Linked DNA regions of Homo sapiens: regions 2, 3 and 4 are each linked to region 1. The links come from fine-mapping of genetic effects on gene expression. A gene starts in region 1. Each other region holds a variant in brackets. All regions are shown on one strand. Distances are from middle to middle. Region 1 holds the start of NSA2 (NSA2 ribosome biogenesis factor). Region 2 overlaps GFM2 (GTP dependent ribosome recycling factor mitochondrial 2). Region 3 overlaps FAM169A (family with sequence similarity 169 member A). Region 4 has its middle 38 kb from the start of HMGCR.

Region 1 (2,690 bases):
TACAGTTTTGCCTTTCCCAGAATGAAACAGGGATCAACAGTAGTACATAGCCTTTTGAATCTGGTTTCTTGCTTTTGGGATTCACCCAATTTGCTGCAGGTATAGGAACTTCAATCCTTTTTATTGTTGAGTAGTATGCTATTGTATGGATACACCACTGTTTACCCGCTGACCAGATGATAGGTATCAGGGTTGTTCCCAGTTTTGGGTGATTACGAATAAATCTGCAATAAACAACTGCATGCAAGTCTTCATGTGGACGTGTGTTTACTGCCAGACCGTTTTCCAAAAGTGCATTATTTTTCTTTTCACCAGCAATGTATGGGATGCTTTTTGCATTTTAGACACGTTTTAAACACGCGGCCAGGCGTGAGTCTATTCGTATTTTAAGGCTGCAAAAATAAAAATGATACAAAGCCAAGTCCAGCACAGAGAGCAATGTTAAGTAACAACCAACAAGGTGTGCTGCTACCAACTGCTATCACATAAACTTTGCAGCAATCACATGAAGGGTGTATGGAATGCCATTTTGCAAAGAAACGCAGATTATAGAGACGTAACACAAAGAGAAAGGACCTGGCAGTTAGATCTGGGCCGTTAAGCCCGGCTTCGCAATTCATTAGCTGTCTGGTCTTTGGCAAGGACGCCTTCAGTTTCCTCAGCAGTAAAATGAAGGGGGCGGGACTGACATCTAAGACTGTACAAGGGACAACCATATTCCCATTAGGCTCTGGGGCTGATAACCACGCTTGTGGTGAAATCAGGAATTTTTAGGACTCTTAGCGGTGGATCAAAAAGAAAAAAGAAAACAGGACAGAGTAAAATCTTGCTCCAAAGCTTGTGTTCTGGCAAATACCGTCTGTGTCTCGAATGTGAAGTTGTTTCCACTCCTCAGAGCCCACCCCACGGGTCTACCATCCTTTTCTCTTGGCAGTTCTCATTTCCGCCTACCACCGCTCACCCCCTACCCCAGCGCCCCAGAGTCCTCAGGTCCCACTAACTCAGACGCTGTGTGTCGCGAGCGTCCGAGGCATCCTCCTTACCATGGTGACGGCCGCAGAGCCGCCAGGAGCAGCCGCTGGAGTGCGAAAACGCTCTCAATTTTCGGGTCTCAAAGACCCACAAGCCCACACCACGCAGGCCGGGACAGGAAAGAGTCACCCTTTAAAACGGCCGAGTGAAGAGCAAGAACCACGCAGCGGTTCCGAGCCTCTGTTTTCCGCTTTTAGCTAGGAGGACGGAAGTTGCTGGCAGGCGGCATTTGGCCGGTACACCGCCGGAAGTGTGGAGGTGTGGCTGCCCGAGGCGGTAGAGCGGAGAAAGCCTATTTTCTTTTCGTTTAGATACATTGCCTTTTGCCTAGGCTGGCGTCGAGACTTGAGGCCGTTGCAGACTTTGGCGCGGCTCGCGCCTCCTGCTTCAAGAGCCCAGCGGTGAGAGCTGGCCTGCGGCACGCGGCCTAATGCCAGGTGAGTACTGCTCCGAGCTGTGAGACATCGCGCGCCTGTGACCCTGTCACAGCGCTGGGTACCGCTGACCTTTCAGGCTGCGACGGACACAGCCAGCCACGGAAGAGGACAACAGGGCCTCCGGACTCCCCTCGGTGTTCGCTCAGTATGGAAGTTTTTCTCTATCATTCGGCGAAGTCGACTCATCTTTGTTCCGGTCACTCTGTGTAATGTGTGCATGATTGTGAAGGATACTGAGGAATGAAAACTTAGTGTACAGAAAAATGGAACTACTGGGGCTTTGCAGCTGTTAGAAAAGAAGAAGATAACATTCTGGTTTTTTGGAGGTACAGGACTGATTCCAGAAATTTCTGAGGCATTTTGGTGCACCGAATCAAATGCTGAGTGGACTTGTATTTAGTGGCCCCCTAGTGTCAAGAAGTAATTAACTACCAGAAAGTACGTCTACTTAAATACACTATCAGGTTTACCCTTTTACTGCACAGTTGCAGAAGTTCCCTTAATTACTTCACAGCTTGCAGCGTGATTCAGTTGATGAACAAAAAGAACTGTACCAAAAGAATACTTTCATTAATTCTTAGTGCTTGTATTTGAGGCAGTATTTTGTTTTTGTTTTTGTTTTTATGGGTATTTTGAGACGGCATCTCGCCCAGTCGCCCAGGCTGGAGTGCAGGGGCACGAGCTCGGCTCACCGCAGCCTCGACCTCCCGGGATCAAGCGATCCTCCGACCTCAGCCTCAAAAGTAGCGAGCTACAGGCTCGCGCCACGAAGCCTGGCTGATTTTTGTAGTTTTTGTAGAGATGAGGTTTCACCGTGTTGCCCAGGCTGGTCTCGAACTCCCGGGTACGAGCGATCCACCCGCCTCGGCCTCCCAAAGTGTTGGGATTACAGGCTTGAGCCACAGCGCCCGGCTTTGAGGCAGTTTTTGTTTTGTTTTGAGACGGAGTTTCAATCTTGTCGCACAGGCTGGAGTGCAAATGCGCCATCTCGTCTCACTGCAACCTCTGCCTCCCGGGTTCAAGCGATTCTCCAGGTTCAGCCTCCCAAGTAGCTGGAATTATAGGCGCTCGCCACCACACCCAGCTAATATTTTTGTATTTTTAGTAGAGATGGGGTTTCACCATGTTGGTCGGGCTGGTTTCGAACTCCTGACTTCAGGTGATCCACCTGCCTCGGCCTCCCAAAGTGCTGGAATTACAGGCGTGAGCCACCGAGCCCCG
Region 2 (2,690 bases), 32 kb after region 1:
GAGTTCCTGACAACAGAAAGGAGTAAGGGGAAGGAAGAAGATAATACCCCTTTTCTCTTAAGATTTCTTCTATGTCATTGGCCAGCACTGAGACATATGGCAGCCTGTTGCAAGGAAGTCTGGTAAAAGCAGCCTTTTAAGTAGGCAGCAGCAGAGTAGAGTGGAAGGCTGCTAGTAGTCTCTGCCACAGCCTTCTTGCCTGGCTTCATTTCTTGTGAAACTTCCGCCTTCATTTTGACCCTCTTCTTTAACCCAAATTAGAATAAAACTATAGTACCTAGCCACACCTTATGCTCCCACAGTAAAATAATTGTGATTTCCTGAAGGTACCGTGCTCTTTTTTGCATCGCTATTTCTTTTCTTCTGTTCTCTCTTGCATTATAATAGTAGCCCATGAACTTAACCTGCCTGGAAAAGGTTTACCCTTTCTTTAGGTCTCACCTCAAGCATCACACTTTATGAGGCTCTCACTGAATTCCTATATTAGACTGTTTGTTTAAGGACAGACCTTCTAGTTCTAGAAGTGGCATTAGAAGCCCTCTTTCCTTTGAAAACAAGTTGGACTCACAGATTATGGGAGAACAAAAGCAATCTCTATTGCCTCCCCTTGTCTTCCTGAGGACCCTGTAGGGAGAAAGAAGGAAGATCCCTAGCCCAGTAGAGGTTACAGTTGCTCACCTCCCCAAATGGAGTTCACATGAAAGAAATCTGAATATAGATGTAAGACAGCCCCCAGTACTGAAGGAAACTGAAACTGAGTCTTTTTGTGTCCACTTGCTGAAGGAATAGCATTTAAGTTAAAATGGGCCTAACAGCAATTTTTCTGTTACTTTAAATGCCTTGAGGACAGTTAAGTATAGTTTTTATTCTAGTGGAAAAGGATCAGGTGATGATGCATCTGGCTGCCTAAGTATATCAAAGTTAACCAAGCTGGTTGTATCAGGAGTGGCCAGGCATTTAAGAGCAGGGGCTGCCCAAACAAAGTAACCCATGGATTCTTTGAAATATATTTGAGAGTCATTTTATATTTCAGATGCAGCATGAGCACCTAAATTCAAATTGTGGGCTTGCAGTGAAATTGCACCAGCCAGTTTTGCATCTAAGAACTCAAGCCTTTAACTACTTTAGGAGAAAAAGTGTGGTATCCAAAGTCTCATTAATGGGCATTAGCTCAGGGGTCCTAAGCCCCCAAGAGGAAGGGATTTACCAAAGCTCCCTTACTTAGACTTCTTTCAAGCAGATCTACATGTTTCTTTTTTGTGCTTTTATTGTACTTACCCCATGGTCCAGTTATAACCCTCGATACCTGTTACAATGCTAACATCACAAATATTTTAAAATAATTTATTTTACAGTAAAAGTTATTTTTATTCCAAAAGTCACTTAGTGTCATACGCATGTACTCTGTTTGAGTATCTGTATGTGCTTAAAATAAAATATTATCTACAATAATGCCTCTTAACCTTGAACGTACATACACATCTCTTGGGATTCTTGTTAAAATGTAGACTCTGACT[C/T]AGTAGGTCCAGAACCTAAGATTCCGCATTTCTGTCAGACTCCAGGCATTACCAGTGTTGCTGGTCCTTGGAGCCCACTTTGGGATGTCAAGGGTCTAGAACAGTATTGTCTAGTAGAAATATAATGTGACCTACATATGTAATATAAAATTTTCTTATAGCCACATCAAACAAACTGGTGAAATAAATTTTCATAATATATCAAAATATTACTTCAATATATCAATATTAAAATTACTAATATTTACAATATTAAAATTATTAATATTACTGAGATATTTTACATTCTTTTTTTCACAGTAAGTCTCAGAAACCTGGTGTTTATTTTACATTTACAGCATCTGGCAGTTCATAACATTAATACCCCCAAATGGCTGTGGTTACCATTTGGATAGTGTGGGTCTAAAAGGCCTGGTTTGTATACCTAAGATACTTTGAATGTGTGACTGATAAGGTTAGCTCATTAATCCAGTGCTCAGCTCTTTTCTTTAGCTACACTTTGTCTGTGGAACTTCTAACATATTTCTTTTATAAAAAGAGGGAGAGTATACTTATCAGTTAATTGAGTGTATTAAAATATCACTTTAGATGGCATACTTAATGCCATCTAAAATATACATTATTTTCGCAATGGTTGTGATAATTCATCATAGAGTTATACTAGTACCTGTTTATTCATGATGTAATTTTAGCCTCCTTTTGGCACTTCATTATTGCCAGTTTTTCTGAAGGCATTTTACTTTTTTGTCAGCTCCTAAATTGATATTTGGAAAATAAAATCAGATGATGTTACTGTTCCTCTTAAAACCTTTCAGTGGCTTCGCAGTGCAAACCCAAACTTTTCATCATGGCCTACAAGACCTTACATGATATGATCCCTGCCACACATCTCCTTCCTCATCTGATGCTATTCTTCCTTTTGCCCACTGATCTCTAGCTGCTAGTCTTCTTGCTCTTTTTCCCAACAGCAGATTGTTCCTTGTATAGCCATTCCCTCTATCTGGGATTCCTTTTCTTCAGGATTTTGCTTATAGTTTGTTCATTTCTGTCTCAAGTCATCCTGGAGAGGCCTTCCTAGACCACTCAGTCTCAGGTAGCCTCCCATTATTATTATTATATCAGCTTCTTTTTGTCTCTGCAGTATGTATGGCTGTTTGAAATTGTCTTTTTTTT
Region 3 (2,690 bases), 59 kb before region 1:
TATAAAGTAACTGACAATCAGCCATAGTGTCAAGGTTATGAGTGACAAGGGGAGATGGAGGAATTATCGAAGACCAGAGTTTAGGGATATATTAAACTAAATGCAGGAAGGAATTCTGGATTGGATTCTGAAACAGAAAAGAACATTAGTGGAATAATGTGTGAAATTTGAATAAAGTCTGTAGTTTAGCTAACAGTATTATAGCAATGTTAATTTCCTGGTTTTGATAATAGTATTTTGGCTATATAGGATGTTAACATTAGGGTGAAGGGTATATGGGAGCTCTTTGTAATGTTTTTGTGACTTTTCTATAAGTCTACAATTGTTTTTAAAATAGTTTTTTAAAAGTCAACAATATGTCAGAAATAACATCTTCTGTAATTATTGATTGAAACTTAGATGAAAATTTTTAGATATCACAAGGATGTGTGAATATATGGTATTTCAAAATTATTTTATGGCTACATGAGCAAAAACGTCTCCTTTGAGGAGTTTGACTAGGCCAAAAGAAAAAAGAAACTAAAAATACCAATATAAATGGTTCCCCTAGGAAAGGCTCCAGCCATATCATCCTGCTGTGAGGTCCATTGCCAGCAAGCCCCACCATACACACAGAGCTTCTAATTAGCTTTTTAATATCTCATTCTTAATTATGAACAGATAGTCATAGGTAAGGAAGGCCACTGATGTGAAAAATGGTGATTAAAGCAAAAGAGAGTAAAAGAGATTTGGAGGAGAAGACAATGCAAAAAATGTGGCCCTTAAAATTTTTGGAAAAGTTAGTCATTGCATTTATGAAATAAGAACAAGAATGTTCACAGAGCTCTTAGAAACTAAAACAAATCCAATAGAGTTGGAGGAGGTTGATCAGAAAGGAGTGCAGAAACAACAAAAAACAAACCTAAATGATGGTAAATAGGAAGAGATGATAAAATTAGAGGGATTATTTAAATAATACATGTTTCAGGAGGAGAGAACAAATTGGAGGAGAAAAAATCACCAATAAAATAATTCACTAACATTTCTCAGAACTGTAGAACACACATTTCCAGATTAAAAGGGCCCATTGAGCATCCATCACAATGAATTAAGATACACTCATACCAAGATTATTGTGAAATTTCAGAGCATCTGGAATAGAGAAAAGATTTTGAAAGCCTCCATAAAGTGAGAGAATGATTTAGACAAAAGATCAAGAATCAAAACGTTACTAGAGTTCTCAACAGCAACATGAATACTAGAAGTGGAATAATGCCTTTAAGATACCAAGGGTAAAGTGATTTCCAGTGTGTTCTGTGCCCCGTCAAATTAATAAAGAGTGAGAGTGAAAGAAGGAAATTTCTAGACTGTCAGTCTTAAAACAATTTACCTTTTATATACCCCTTTTCTGGAAGTGAGTAGA[G/A]TTTGTGCTCTCCTAAGATAAAGAAAATCAAGAAGGAAAGATGGGATTAGGAAACTAAGAGAGAAAAGAAAGGAGATCCAACATCACAGCTATGTCAGTTGTGGAGCTGCTCTTTGTTAAAACCACTAGCTTTATGTGGCTGTTGAAGTTAAATTTTAAAATTCAGTTTCTCAGTCATGCTGGCCACATTTTAAGAGCTCAATGGCCACATGTGACTAGTGGCTACTGCATTGGACAGAGTAGATACAGAACTTTTCCATCATTGCAGAATGATCTTTTGGACATTTCTTTTTCTAAAGATTGACTGATCTAGATTGGAGCAGATCACAAAGCTCTGGGACGTTGATTTAAGAAGATAGAGTTCATAGAATACCTGATGTATTTGAATTTATTGGGATAAGATTTACATAGTTACTGGAGACTTTGGAGGATGAGAGAGATAGTAATAAATATTATTAAGGGAAATCAAAAAGTGTAAGAATAAAGATAAAAATAAACATTCATGGTACACTATATGGCTCAGTTGTCAAAAGCATTTATATAGTCATAATGTAAATACTGAAAATTGATCTAACAAATCACAAATTACTATTTAGGGGTGTTGGGGTTTTTTGTATGGGAAGTGTGTTTATGTTGGAGTTGAGATTGGGGTGTGTGAATGTATTTAAGAGCTAAATTCTCACCTTCCAAGTTCTAGCTATCTATGCCTAAAATGGAAAAATGAAGAAATAGAAATCAAGAGGTATAGTAAGTTACTTAGAGAAGTAGAAGTAAATACCGAAAATATCAGCTAAATGACTTCAAAATGGTTGCTTTTGGGGTGTAGAAAGTGTGTTTGTGTGTGTGTATGTGTGTGTGTGTGTGTGTGTATGTGTGTGTATCAGGAAAGTGGTCACAGAGCTGCTTTTTTTTTTTCTTAAGTCTTATATGACTATTGTATTCTAAACAATGTTATGGATGACTTTGATTAAAAACAAGAAGTATACATTTAAAAAAATGAGGCCATGTCCAAAGTGTAATCACTATCTACCACAAAACTAGCTGAACTTTATAAATCCTTCTCAGCCTGGAATGATAAGGACTATCTGTTAAAGGGCTGTGCTAATTAGAAGATTAATGAAAAAGTCTCATACAGTTACTAAAATAATACAAAACAAATCACTGGTTAATTCAGTGGAAGTTTTGTGACTTTTGGCCTATATCAAGAAGTATATAAAGATGCAAATTTGTGTAAATAGCATACCGTATTTTAGTGTAGATAAGCTCAGAGAACACAATTGAGGTCACT
Region 4 (2,690 bases), 610 kb before region 1:
GATATTGCATTGATGTCTCAGTTGTTTAGCTTTATCCCAGGAAAAAGGGTATTTGAAAATATTAAATAGGTTCCAGTCTTAGTTACCTGAATGATTGGTGTTTTGGAATATAGCCTTACCCTTTAGGGATTCTCTCTTCAAGCACAAGTGCACTGCATTCAGTGTGCTGACAATTTTTATATCTTGTACTTTAGAATTGTTATAGCTAGATCTGGACACATTACTTCTTATCGATTCTGAGTCTGTGCCATATTTATCAAATAAACCAGAAAACTGATGGCACGTGACAGCAACAGGCTTATCACCCTGCTTCGCTGTGTGTCTCTTTGCCATGGCCTCTAGGGTTTTTAAAGTGGTGCTGTTTCACTCTATCCAAGACCAGATTTTGTTTCACTCTAACTATATCTGCCTTCTCTCTTCTTCACTATGACCTCACTGAAACGGCCTCCCTCTTGATGCTTTATGATGACTTCCTTACCAAAGGTTCTCAGATATTCAACCAAGCAAGGCAGAAATACAACTTTGTATTAAAGCAAGAGAAATCTGAATGCAGTTGTGTGTAAAACATGCTCTCAATTATATTTGAGAAGAATAATTTTTTAAACAGTTGAAAGATAAATGGTAGGATATTAGCAGCATTTGCTTCTAGACTTGGATTTAGAGCGGTGTTTCATTGACTCTCTGTGTGTGTGCATGTGTATGTTCACAGATTTTTCATTTGTGGACCTGGGAGGGAGGAGCTTGGAATCTGAAAAAATTCATCTCTGGGGAAGAGAGGTCTATTGTTTGTGGGTACATGTATATGTGTGCAAAGATACAGCTGAAAAGATTCATTGGCCCAAACTCAGATTTGGCTTTTTGAGTCCAGATTGAGCTTCTTTCTAACAAAGATCCAAATTCAAACCTTAACATGGTAAAATCTTTGTTACTGTAACGTAACTTTTTTTTTTTTTTTACAATAATTATGGAAGATAAATGTATGAAGTCGAACCCAGCATTGAAACCCTAGGAAAGCGAACATTCTTAATTTTGGTGATGGAAAAAAATAGTAACATTCAATAATGTGTGTATCATCTTTAGAGAAAGTTCTGTAAAGAGTTAATAAGATCCAAAGTTGTTTAACAGTAAAAACTTTATATATATATTATATATAATATATATTTTTATTTATTTTATTTATTTATTTATTTATTTATTTATTTATTTATTTATTT[ATTTATTTT/T]GAGACAGCATCTCACTCCTGTCGCCCAGGTTGGAGTACACTGGAGCGATCTCAGCTCACTGCAGCCTCAACTTCTCAAGCTCAGGTGTTCCTCCTACCTCCCTGGGTAGCTGGGACTATAGGCACACACCACCATGCCCGGCTAATTTTTTATACTTTTAGTAGAGTTGGGGTTTCACCATGTTTCCCAAGCTGGTCTCAAACTCCTGAGTTCAAGCAATCCGCCTGCCTCAACCTCCCAAAGTGCTGGGATTACAGGTGCGAGCCACCTAGCCCCGCCAGTAAAAACTTTTAAACTCATTTGACAAAGAGGTCTGAGCATGTTTGTTGATTAAATAAGGCAGGCCTCTCTCTCATAGCTTGAATACATTTTTTAAATTCTTGGTAAGTAGTATTGTATGTCATAATTTTTATTGCAGGCTAAGAGGAAAGAAATGCCATGTTGTGGAGTAAAAATCCAGAGACCTTTCACTGATTACCTCTGCTCACCTATATTGCCCTTTTTTTTTCAGGTGCCTGTGCCCCCTTTATTTTACACAACTATGCAAATTGTGAGGCCAAGGATGTGACTGCAAACAATTAAGATTTGATTTACATGAATAAGCTTTCTTCTCCATGAAAATACACTGTGTCACTTCACACTTGGTCTAACACACACACAAAATTCTCACCCTAGGTGGCACAGATACACTCAGCATGCAATATTAAGTACAATTTCCATTTTATTTTTCTCCAGAGAATAGTCCATCTTCAGTCTTTAAGGACTCAGCTCCTTACATGGGCTTTGGTGGGGGTCATGGGGCAGCACCCGCAGGTCTAAATTGGGGTGGAGGTGTTCGATCCTTCTCCTTCATGAGATCGATTCCTGACTACTTTGTTGTGAGTTGCACAACTCACACAGTAATATAGCTTCACATAACAGCTTGGGAAGCACATAGACATCAAAGACACTCGCTTCGGAAATGTCCCTGACTGCTGCGACCTTCACTGTGTTTCAAATGACGAATTTCTTAATGGCCTTGTCCTTGGGCACGCATCAGGCACGGTTCGTGCAGCAAACAGGCTGCACGTGGCTGTGGCCCTTTTTGGCACAACCATTGTTCCTTCTTTTCTTTGTCATCTTGGAGGCCTGGACTGTAGAGAGGACTGTTCCCGTTTTTTTTTCTAACTTTTGAAAAATTCCATATACCTTTGATTCCTTGCTGATGGAATAAGTTCAAATTTGTAAGGTTAATAATTTTGCATTCATAATGATAAATTTTAATAGAGATTCCATGCATTCCATGAATATGGAGGGTGGGAGAACTCTGTTCTGGTAGTCTTGCAGCTGTTCGTAGCAAACATACTGCTGAGTTTTTTACTTGTCTTTTTTTTTTTTTTTTTTCCTTCAGTGACTGAAGCAAGGCTGTGTGACATTCCATGTTGGAGAAAAAAAGAAAAAAAAAAGCTGAATGCTCTAAGCTGGAAC

What was found. PIP is the estimated chance that this variant, and not a neighbour inherited with it, causes the effect.
Region 2: its variant is the best candidate, but not a certain one, in a credible set for the expression of NSA2 in whole blood (TOPMed, PIP 0.67).
Region 3: its variant is the best candidate, but not a certain one, in a credible set for the expression of NSA2 in whole blood (INTERVAL, PIP 0.54).
Region 4: its variant is the best candidate, but not a certain one, in a credible set for the expression of NSA2 in cultured neurons (Aygun 2021, PIP 0.79).

What each region holds. Positions count from the first base shown.
Region 1 is chr5:74,765,717-74,768,406 of GRCh38, reverse strand. NSA2 (NSA2 ribosome biogenesis factor) reads right to left here and starts at 1,158. Exons shown (of 6, transcript NM_014886.6): 1 at 1,044-1,158. The coding sequence starts at 1,046. GFM2 (GTP dependent ribosome recycling factor mitochondrial 2) reads left to right here and starts at 1,290. Exons shown (of 21, transcript NM_032380.5): 1 at 1,290-1,469. RefSeq lists an enhancer at 1,138-1,577.
Region 2 is chr5:74,733,341-74,736,030 of GRCh38, reverse strand. The region is part of intron 15 of GFM2 (GTP dependent ribosome recycling factor mitochondrial 2); the gene reads left to right. Among named protein-coding and RNA genes, the nearest start is that of GFM2, 32 kb to the left of the region's middle. The variant C/T (reference allele first, on the strand shown) is at 1,518.
Region 3 is chr5:74,824,290-74,826,979 of GRCh38, reverse strand. All of the region lies in intron 5 of FAM169A (family with sequence similarity 169 member A), which reads left to right. Among named protein-coding and RNA genes, the nearest start is that of FAM169A-AS1, 40 kb to the left of the region's middle. The variant G/A (reference allele first, on the strand shown) is at 1,403.
Region 4 is chr5:75,374,115-75,376,804 of GRCh38, reverse strand. It overlaps a transcript of CERT1 not described here and the pseudogene RPS26P26. Among named protein-coding and RNA genes, the nearest start is that of HMGCR, 38 kb to the right of the region's middle. The variant ATTTATTTT/T (reference allele first, on the strand shown) is at 1,215.